2 separate regions of the Homo sapiens genome follow, and region 1 is linked to region 2. Evidence: fine-mapped expression QTL. A gene starts in region 2. The other region holds a variant in brackets. All regions are shown on one strand. Distances are from middle to middle. Region 1 overlaps TSTD2 (thiosulfate sulfurtransferase like domain containing 2). Region 2 holds the start of XPA (XPA, DNA damage recognition and repair factor).

What was found. PIP is the estimated chance that this variant, and not a neighbour inherited with it, causes the effect. A credible set is the group of variants that fine-mapping cannot tell apart.
Region 1: its variant is the best candidate, but not a certain one, in a credible set for the expression of XPA in tibial artery (GTEx, PIP 0.71).

Annotation. Positions count from the first base shown.
Region 1 is chr9:97,618,971-97,624,350 of GRCh38, forward strand. All of the region lies in intron 3 of TSTD2 (thiosulfate sulfurtransferase like domain containing 2), which reads right to left. Among named protein-coding and RNA genes, the nearest start is that of TSTD2, 12 kb to the right of the region's middle. The variant T/C (reference allele first, on the strand shown) is at 2,874.
Region 2 is chr9:97,694,737-97,700,080 of GRCh38, forward strand. It overlaps XPA (XPA, DNA damage recognition and repair factor), which reads right to left and starts at 2,604. Exons shown (of 6, transcript NM_000380.4): 1 at 2,385-2,604. The coding sequence starts at 2,556. It overlaps PTCSC2 (papillary thyroid carcinoma susceptibility candidate 2), which reads right to left. Exons shown (of 11, transcript NR_147055.1): 11 at 4,889-5,335. It also overlaps the pseudogene KRT18P13. RefSeq lists enhancers at 1,996-2,055, 2,066-2,115 and a silencer at 2,666-2,765.

The sequences.
Region 1 (5,380 bases), 76 kb before region 2:
GCCTCATGTGTCTTTTTCGTTGTTTTTCTAACTAGTAAGTAAATTCCCTGAAGTGTGGGGCCATATGAAATGGAAGGGCCATATCTGTATAGCACAGTGTAGTTCACAACTGCTTATACTATCACCGTCCTATATAACTCATTCTGCAGTACTGGGAGGTAGGCAAGGCAGGCATTATTATTCCAATTTTAGAGGTGAGGAAATGAAGGTACAGAAAATTTTAGTGACTAGCTCAAGTGTGACTTCTACTTCAACTTGCTTTCTTGCTCCTTTCCAATAAGTAAAAGGGAATGTGGCACTGAGTAGTAATGACAAAAATTGATCAAATTTGGACTACAGTTGACCCGTGAGCAACGCGGGTTTGAACTGTGCAGGTCCACTTACTTGTAGATCTTTTTGTGCCTCTAGCACTCATGCAGCAACAAGACCAATCCCTCTTTCTCCTCAGCCTACTCAATGTGAAGGTGACAAAGATGAAGACCTTTATGACGAACCATTTAACATAAAGAATAGTAAATATGTATTACGATTTTCTTTTTTTCTTTTTTTTTTGTAGGGCAGGGTCTTACTATGTTGCCCAGACTGGTCTTGAACTCCTGGCCTAATGTGATCTTCCTGCCTTGGCCCTCCACAATGCTGGGATTATAGGAATAAGTCACTGCACCTGGCCTCTTATGATTTTCTTAATAACATTTTCTCTAGCTTACTTTAATACAGTATACAATATATAATATACATAACATAGAAAGATGTGTTCATTGACTGTTTACATTATTGATAAGGCTTCAGTCAACAGGAGGCTATTAGTATAGTTTTGGGGGAGTTAAAAGTTATACGCAAATTTTCAACTGCCCCTAATCCTTGGATTCCTGACCCCGTGTTTTTCAAGGATCAACTGTATTTCTATTTACCAAATAGTTCAATAATTGCTTAAAGTCAGAAATTTGTCCTCTGGAATTCTGTAATATGACTTGGTGAGTTTTTCAAGGCCAGGATCTAAACATCTAATCCTATGATTCAGTTTTAAAAGTTAATACACTTCCTAAAACATATTCAGCTCAGAAAACTGTATCTGGCAATAAAAACCTGATATTGCTTGGCTGTGTCCCCACCCAAATCTCATCTTGAATTGTAATTCTCACAATTCCCACGTGTCATTGGAGGAACGCAGTGGGAGCTAATTGAATCATGGGGGTAGGTCTTTCCCATGCTGTTCTCATGAGACTGAATAAATCTCATGAGAGTTGATGGTTTTAAAACTGGGAGTTTTCCTGTACAAGCTTTCTCTCTTTGCCTGCTGCCATCCATGTAAGATGTGACTTGCTCCTCCTTGCCTTCCAACCATGATTGTGTGGCCTCCCCTGCCATGTGGAACTGTAAGTCCATTAAACCTCTTTCTTTTGTAAATTGCCCAGTCTTGGGTATGTCTTTATCAGCAGCATGAAAATGAACTAATACAATAAATTGGTACTAGTAGAGTGGGGTGCTGCTGAAAAGACACCCAAAAAGGTGGAAGTGATTTTGGAACTAGGTAACAGGCAGAGGCTGGAACAGTTTGGAGGGCTGAGAAGACGACAAGAAGATGTGGGAAAGTTTGGAACTCCCTAGAGACTTGTTGAATGGCTTTGACCAAAATGCTGATAATGATATGGACAATGAACTTCAGGCTGAGGTGGTCTCAGATGGAGATGAGGAACTTCTTGGGAACTGGAGCAAAGGTGACTCTTGTTATGTTTTAGCAAAGAGACTGGTGTGGCATTTTGCCCCTGCCCTAAAGATTTGGGGAACTTTGAACTTGAGAGAGACGATTTAGGGTATCAGCAAAGCATTCAAGAGGTGATTTGGGTGCTGTTAAAGGCATTCAGTTTTATAAGGGAAGCAAAACATAAAAGTTCAAAAAATTTGCAGTCTGACAATGCAATAGAAAAGGAAATCCCATTTTCTGAGGAGAAATTCAAACTGGCTACAGAAATTTGCATGAGTAATGTGGAGCCAAATGTTAATCCCAAAGACAAAGGGGAAAATGTCTCCAGGGCATGTCAGAGGTCCTCATGACAGCCCCTCCTATCACATGCCTTGTTGTGGGAAGTCAGGGACCCTGAACGGAGGGACTGGCTGAAGCTGTGGCAGAAGAACATAAGTTGTGAAGATTTCATGGACATTTATTAGTTCCCCAAATTAATACTTTTATAATTTATGCCTGTCTTTACTGCAATCTCTAAACATAAATTGTGAAGATTTCATGGACATTTATCACTTCCCCAATCAATACTCTCATAATTTCCTATGCCTGTCTTTAATCTCTTAATCCCGTCATCTTCATAAGCTGAGGATGTATGTCGCCTCAAGACCCTGTGATGATTGTGTTAATTGCACAAACTGTTTGTAAAACATGTGTGTTTGAACAATATGAAATCTGGGCACCCTGAAAAAGAACATGGTAACAGCCATGTTCAGGGCACAAGGGAGGTAACTATAAGGTCTGACTGCCTGCGGGGCCGGGCAGAACAGAGTCATATTTTTCTTATTGAAGAAAATGAGTAGAAGAAATATCGCTGAATTCTTTTCCCAGTAAGGAATAACCCTGGGAAGGGAATGCATTCCCGGGTGGTCCTATGGACGGACACTCTGGGGGTGTCTGCCTTATGCGGTTGAAGATGAGGGATGAAATACGCTCTGGTCTCCTGCAGTGCCCCCAGGCTTGCTAGGATTAGGAAATTCCAGCCTGGCGAATTCTAGTCAGACTGGTTCTGTGCTCTTGAACCCTGTTTCCTGTTAAGATGTTTATTAAAGACAATGCGTGCACAGTGGGACATGAAACCTCATCAGTAATTCTAATTTAGCCCTGGCCTTGTGACCTTGCTCTGCCCTTC[T/C]GCCCTTGTTATCTTTTTTATTGCCATTTGAAGCATGTGATCTCTGTGATCCACTCCCTATTCGTACACCCTTCCCTTTTTGAAATCCCTAATAAAAACATGCTGGTTTTGTGGCTCAGGTGGGCATCACAGAACTTACCAACATGTGAAGCGACCCCCGGACACCTAGCTGTAAAATTTCTCTGTTTTGTACTCTTTCTCTTTATTTCTCAGGCCGGCCAACACTTAGAGAAAATAGAAAAGAACCTACGTTGACATATTGGGGGCTGGTTCCCCCGATAATGCCTGAGGGTCTAGGAGGAAAAAATGGTTTCATGGGCCAAACCCAGGGTCCCCCTGCTGTGGGCAGTCTAGGGACTTGGTGCCCTGCATCCCAGCCACTCTAGCTGTGACCGAAAGGGGCCAATGTAGAATTCAGGCCATGGTTCCAGAGGGTGCAAGCCTCAAGCCTTGGCAGCTTCCAGGTGGTGTTGAGCCTGTGAGTGCATAGAAGTCAAGAATCAGGGTTTGGGAACCTCTGCCTAGATTTCAGAGGATGTATGGAAACACCTGGATGCCCAGGCAGAAGTTTGCTGCAGGGGCAGGGCCTTCATGGAGAACCTCTGCTAGGGCAGTGCAGAAGGGAAATGTGGGGTCAGAGCCCCAACACAGAGTTCCCACTGAGGCACTGCCTAGTGGAGCTATGAGAAAAGGGCCATGGTCCTCCAGACCCCAGAATGGTAGATCCACTGAGAGCTTGCACCGTGTGCCGAAAAGATGCAGACACTCAACCCCAGCCTGTGAAAGCAGTCAGGAGGGAGGCTATACCCGCAAAGCCACAAAGGCGGAGTTGCCCAGTATCATGGGAACCAATCTCTTGCATCAGCATGACCTGGATGTGAGACACGGAGTCAAAGGAGATCATTTTGGAGCTTTAAAATTTGACTGCCCTGCTGGATTTAGGACTTGCATGGGGCCTGTGGCCCCTTTGTTTTGGCCAATTTCTCCCATTTGGAATGGCTGTATTTACTCAATGCCTATGCCCCCATTGTATCTAGGAAGTAACTAACTTGCTTTTAACAGGCTCATAGGCAGAAGGGATTTGCTTTGTCTCAGATGACATTTCAGACTGTGGACTTTTGAGTTAATGCTGAAATAAGACTTTGGAGACTGTTGGGAAGACAGAATTGGTTTTTAAATGTAAGGACATGATATTTGGGAGGGGCCAGGGGCAGAATGATATGGTTTGATTGTGCCCCCACCCAAATCTCATCTTGAATTGTAATTCTCACAATTCCCACGTGTCATGGGAGGACCCCAGTGGGAGGTAATTGAATCACGGGGATGAGTCTTTCCCATGTTGTTCTTGTGATAGTAAGTCTCACAAGATCTGATGGTTTTAAAAACAGGAGTTTCCCTGCACAAGCTCTCTCTCTTTGCCTGCTGCCATCTACGTAAGATGTGACTTGCTCCTCCTTGCCTTCCACCATGATCATCAGGTCTCCCCTGCCATGCGGAACTGTTAAGTCCATTAAACCTCTTTCTTTTGTAAATTGCCCAGTCTTGGATATGTCTTTATCAGCATGAAAACAGACTAATACAAAACCCTTTTTTAAGCTCTGACATTACATAGGGTAGAGGAATCATTAATGTCTCTGTGTCTTCCCACTTGTTTTTGAAAATAATATAATTTTCTTTCTTTACCTCTCCTCCCTAAAGAATATGTAGAATGGTCTCCAAGAAACCTTGCAAACAGGCTGGATGCAGTGGCTCACACCTGTAATCCCAGCACTTGGGAGGCCAAGGTGAGCAGATCACCTGAGGTCAGGAGCTCAAGACTAGTCTGGCCAACATGGTGAAACCCTGTCTCTACTAAAAATACAAATTAGCTGGGTATGGTGGTGCATGCCTGTAATCCCAGCTACTCGGGAGGCTGAGGCAGGAGAATCACTTGAACCTGGGAAGCAGAGGTTGAAGTGAGCCAAGATCACACCACTGCACTCTAGCCTGGGTGACAGAGTGAGACTCTGTCTCAAAAAAAAAAAGAAAAAACCTCACAAACAATGTCAACTGACTGGGTATATGCTGCTGCACAGGCTATGGTCTTTGGCTATATATAGTATGCATGTTATTGGCCTAACTTAGGCCTCTAGAATTCTGTGCCTTAAGGATCTAGCTGTTGCAAGTAGTTAAGATCCTGAAAGAATAGGTAAAGTGCAGGCAGTGCTGCTAGGTAATACACACTAAAAAGTAACAACTCTGAGGTATGGTGCCCAGCCTCCAAGATGATCCCTGATGATCCTGCCTCCTGGTATTTAGACCCTTGCATAGTTCTCTCCTAGACTGTACTGAGGTTAGTCTACGTGACCAATAGCATCAATAAAAAGTGATGGTATGGCAATCTGAGATTAGGTCATAAAAGATTGTGGTTTCTGTCTTGAAGTGTCTCTGTCTCTCACATATCACATGCCATGTCATGAGAGCACTCAGGCAGCCTATGAAGAGACCCCCACAGAGAGGAATGGAGG
Region 2 (5,344 bases):
GCAATTCCATCTCCAGGCATATACACAAGAGAAGTGAGTGTGTATGTCCACTAAAATACATAAAAAAGAATGTGTACAGAGGTTTCATTCGTAACAGCCCCAAAGTGGAAACAACCCAAATAGCCACCAAAAGGAAAATGGAAAAAATTGTGGCATAATACAAAAGAATCTATACAACATCTAAATGCACAAACTACCAATGCACGCAACAAAATGTGTGAATCTCTCAGATACTATGTTGCGCAAAAAAAGCCAGATACTGTATGACTCAATGTACATGAAGTTTGGAAATAGGTAATACCAATCAAATGGTCAGAAGAGTATTACTTCTGAGAGTAGAGAGTGGACACCGACTAGGAAGGCGCAATAGGAAAACTTCTAAGGTTCCGGAAGTGTACATGTCTTGATCACGATGGTGTTTACACAAGCATTCACATAGGTAAAATTCAGATGAGTACATTTTACAGTATGTTACACCTCCATTTATTAAGACAGATTAATATGTTTTATTCTGCTACAGTCACTCCCCTTCTCTGGCCTCAATTTCTCCCTCTATTAAATGAAAGGATTAGATTATAAACTTGTTTCCACTGTTAACAGCAATTCTCACACTATAATGCCTGTTCATCTCTCTGTATCCCTTCATTAGACTGAGTGCCTTTACTTGTATACTTCTGACAAATAGTAAACATTCCATGAGTACCAACTGGATGGATAGAAATGAATGAACCTACCAGAATATGTAATATAAATAGCAAAGTAAATGAATGGAATGACAGTAAACACAATGAGAATTAAGAAGAGGGAAAGCTGGAGTAGTCGAGCCCATGACTTGAGCAGGATCCTAAACAATGCTAACTCATGCCCAAAACAAAGTCCGATTTCTCTCTGCTGCTATGCCTTGCTGTTTCCCCAGGACCTTAGCACCACTCTTCGTATTCTAAGCAAGTTTTTTCAGTCTTTCATGGCATATGTCATGGCACACAGAGAAAAAGAAAATTGTATAGTACCATGAAATAAAAGTGTCACAAAGATAAAAATCTCAGCACTTACCTAACTCTTGAAACATGGTGGGTTGTACACAATGCTACAATACAGTTCAGTTCTTGGGGAACTGCCTAAGAAATCTTAAAGAATGTTCATTCTACCTTGCTTTCCATGATCAAAAGTTTAATTTAATGTCAGTTTTTGCTATTTTGCACCTTCCGTTCCACAGCCATGTCGTAGACCTGGAAACCTTTATGGAATCATGACTATGAATTAATCAGTGCAAATGAACTTTCTGTCTGACTCTAGCGTGCCTCAAGTTTAGAAAGGAATAAAAGGTAACCACTATAAAGTAGAAAGGATGAGACCAGTACCATCAAAAGTAGCTGGAATTTGCAGTTTCGGTGTTAGTATGAACATCAAGACATGCTGCCAGCCTCAGACTCTTCTCACTCTCACTACATCTGGCTGATAAAAAAGAGTAATACAGCTCTAAACTGTGCTCGACAAAGGGCAGTATAGAGCTTTAGGAACACATGTACTTCATGTTATAGAGGCAGCCCTGAAGAACTGCCTGTCAACCAAACTATATTTTAAGTATCCTGTTAAAGATTATTAGTTGACCCCAGTGGCAAATTCTATAAGAGAATAATCTGCAATGAGAGATCAGTCCTTAATTTACTTCAATCAATAAACACGTTTTGAGCAACTAGTTTTTGCCAAGAAATCGCAGAGGTCACATGTCCAAGAAATAGACTCATGGAATCTATGGATTAGAATCTTAAAGGTTTACTATCCAGTCCCTTCTTCTGATTGCTGAGTAGGAGATTCTGATTGCTGAATCTCCTCTCCTCCACATAAGTAAGCGTTCTTCCAGTTCCTATTTGAGCGCTTCTAGTAACGGGAAGCTCATGAGAAGCAATCCATTGCACTTTTGGCAACTCTAATTGTTGAAAGCTCTCCCTAACAAACACCAAGATCTGCCTCTTCCATCAACTAGTTCTAGGTATAGAGGCCAGAATCAAGAACTAGTCTAACTCCTCTTTCCGGGACAGCTGAGGCCCTGACACCTGGCAGTGGCTGACACCTCCCGGCCGGGGCGGCTGCATCCCTAAACGAAAAATCGAAGCTGCCAGCAGCCGAGGTGCAGCGAAGAAGGCCCGGGGCTGGGGGTCAGGAGGCCCGCGTGCGACAGAGGAACGCTCTGTGGTCGTGGACAGGACGCTTTGACAAGGCGGCTGGCTGGGCGGATTCCCTCTCCGACTCGGGGAGAATCTGCACACATACGCCAGCGGAGTTGACGCGACCCCCGGGCCCCGGGACTCGGCTTGCACGAGCCAGTCTGGGGACCGGGGAGGCGGGGAGAGGGAAGGGGAAAGCGCGGACGCGGCCCAAACCTCCAGTAGCCGCAGCCGCCGTCGCCGAGTAGGGCCGGGCAGCCAGCCGGGCCTGGCGCAGCATCAGTGCCCGCTGCCGCTTCCGCTCGATACTCGCCCGCACCGAGGCAGGCAGCTCCGCGGGTTGCTCTAAAGCCGCCGCCTCCGGCAAAGCCCCGTCGGCCGCCGCCATCTCTGGCCCACTCCGAGGACCTAGCTCCCAGCTCCACGCACGCGCACTGCACGCCGAGGCGAGCCAGCCGCCCTGCACCGCCTCTGCGCTCCCCGCACCCAGCGGCCTTTCTGAGTGAGAGCGCCTGCGCAGTTAAGGGGCTCGGGGTGGCCTGCCCGGGCGCTGGGCGGAGTCTGGGTATGCGCGGACACGGAGTACCCGCCTAACTACCTGCTCTCTTGTCATCCGGGAGAAGGGTCCGTGCTGAGATCATATCTCACGACCTGGTCACCTTTAAAATAGGTCTCGCTTGGTGATTCAGAGTATAGGCTTTGGAGTCAGGCCTGGGTTAAGTCTGAGCTCTTGACAGTTAAAGTCTGTGTGACCTTGGGCAAGTTATTTAACCAGAGTTCAGTTTCTTCAGTGGTAAAATGAGGATAATTATGGAACCATTTACCGAGTCTTTGGGAGGATTAGATTGCCAGGACAATAACCTGGCACGTAGAAGACCTCAAAAAATGGTAACAGTGAGTAGTAGTAGTGCCAGTCATAGAGCCCAACAGATGATAGTCCTGATTTTATGTTGGATACACGGCCTAGAGACACAGCCTTAGATTTAAAATGAGAAGACCTGGGTTGAAACTCCCAGTTAACTTGCTGTGTGACCTCAGGCAAATGCAGGACTTGCTCCAAGGCTGATATGCATAAGGTTGGCTATCTTTCCCATGGAATATTCCTTCAGTGAGGATGAGCTACTGCCAGGTAGACAGTGGGTTTGGATCTGGGCCAAATATCCTGACTTCCCAAAAGTGTGGCTAGTGTAACAAAAGAAACATAGCAGGCTTTCCCAAAAATGTATGCTTTCCCTTTGTTACAAATAATGCTTAATTGAAACCAGAAAACATTAACTTCTAATTACTACATGTACCATTTAGGACTGGCTTTTAGAAAGACAACCTCACACACTGATGTTTCCCACTAATGTTCAATGGTTAACCTTTCAGAAACACAATTCAGTGTTCTAATTTATCGGTCATATATACATAAAGCTGCAAAACCTCGTATAAAGCAGTTACCTGCTGAAATCTTAGGTTGAATTGGAGATAGAATCTCAAGCCATCCCCATCTCCCTTCCCCTCAGATCCTTCTTTCTCCCTACCCATCAATCTTGCCCAGGTGAAACTATTTCAAATTCCATAACATCAAAAGCACAAGCAACAAAAGAAAAAAAGCTGGACTTCATTAAAATTAAAAACTAGGCTGGGCACAGTGGTTCACACCTGTAATCTCAACAGTTTGGGAGGCCAAGGCAGGAGGATGACTTGAGGTCATGAGTTCAAGACAAGCTGAGGCAACACAGTGAGACCCTGTCACTATTAAAAAATAATAATAATTGGCAAGGTGCAGTGGCTCATGTCTGTAATCCCAGCCCTTTGGGAGGCCAACACAGGAGGATTGCTTGAGACCAGGAGTTCAAGACCAACCTGGGCAATGTAACAAGAACCCATCTCAGGAGGTCAAGGCTGCAGTGAGCTGTGATGGCACCACTACACTCCAGCCTGGGCAACACAATAACATCTTGTCTCAAAAAAAAATTAAAGTCGTCGGCAAAGCCTGAGTCCTGTCCTCTCACTCTCCTCCCTGGACAGCATAAGCTTCACCACTCGCTCCACCTTCTCCACCAACTACCGGTCCCTGGGTTCTGTCCAGGCACCCAGCTACGGTGTCCGGCTGGTCAGCAGCATAGCCAGCGTCTGTACAGGCACGGGGGCTCTGGTTCCCGGATCTCCATGTCCCGCTCCACCAGCTACCTGAGCAGCATGGGTTCCGGGGGCCTGGCCGCGGGGATGGCCAGGGGTCTGGCAGGAATGAGAGGCATCCAGAACAAGAAGGAGACCGTGCAAAACCTGAACAACTGCCTGGCCTCCTACCTGGACAGAATGAGGAGCCTGGAGGCCAAGAACTGGAAGCTGGAGAGTAAAATCCAGGAGCACCTGTAGAAGAAGGGACCCCAGGTCAGAGATGAGCCATTACTTCAAGACCATTGAGGGCCTGAGGACTCAGATCTTCACAAATACTGTGGACAATGCCTGCATTGTTCTGCAGATTGACAATGCTGGTCTTGCTGCTGATGACTTTAGAGTCAAGTATGAGACAGAGCTGGCCATGCGCCAGTCTGTGGAGAGCCACATCCATGGGCTCCGGAGGTCACTGATGACACCAGTGTCACTCGGCTGCAGCTGGAGACAGAGATCGAAGCTCTCAAGGAGGAGCTGCTCTTCATGAAGAAGAACCACGAAGAGGAAGTAAAAGTGTTGTACCCGAGCGAGTTAAAAAAACGCCACACTTTGAGATGAATTAAGAGTCCTTTATTAGCCGGCGACCGAGAGACGGCTAACGCTCAAAATTCTCTCGGCCCCGAGGAAGGGGCTTGATTAACTTTTATACCTTGGTTTAGAAAGGGGGGGTCGTCTAGTTAAAACAATTTTACAGAAGTTAAGTAGTCAAAAAGTTAAAAGGATAAATGGTTACAGGAAAGTAAACAGTTCCAGATGCAGGGGCTTTAAGACTATTACAAGGTTATAGATGCAGGGCTTTGGGCGTTATCAAACAGATGAATTCTTGGGGACTGTGGATATAGCTTGCCACAGTATCTTATCAGTTAATTGCATTCTTGGATGTGCTGGGAGTCAGCTTGCACAAGTTAAGTCCTTGAGGAAGGGGCTGCCAGTGAAAGAGCCAAGATGGAGTTTGTCTGGTTCTCTTAGCTAAGGGAGAGTCTGTTCAGGTGGAAACAAGCCTAGGTGAA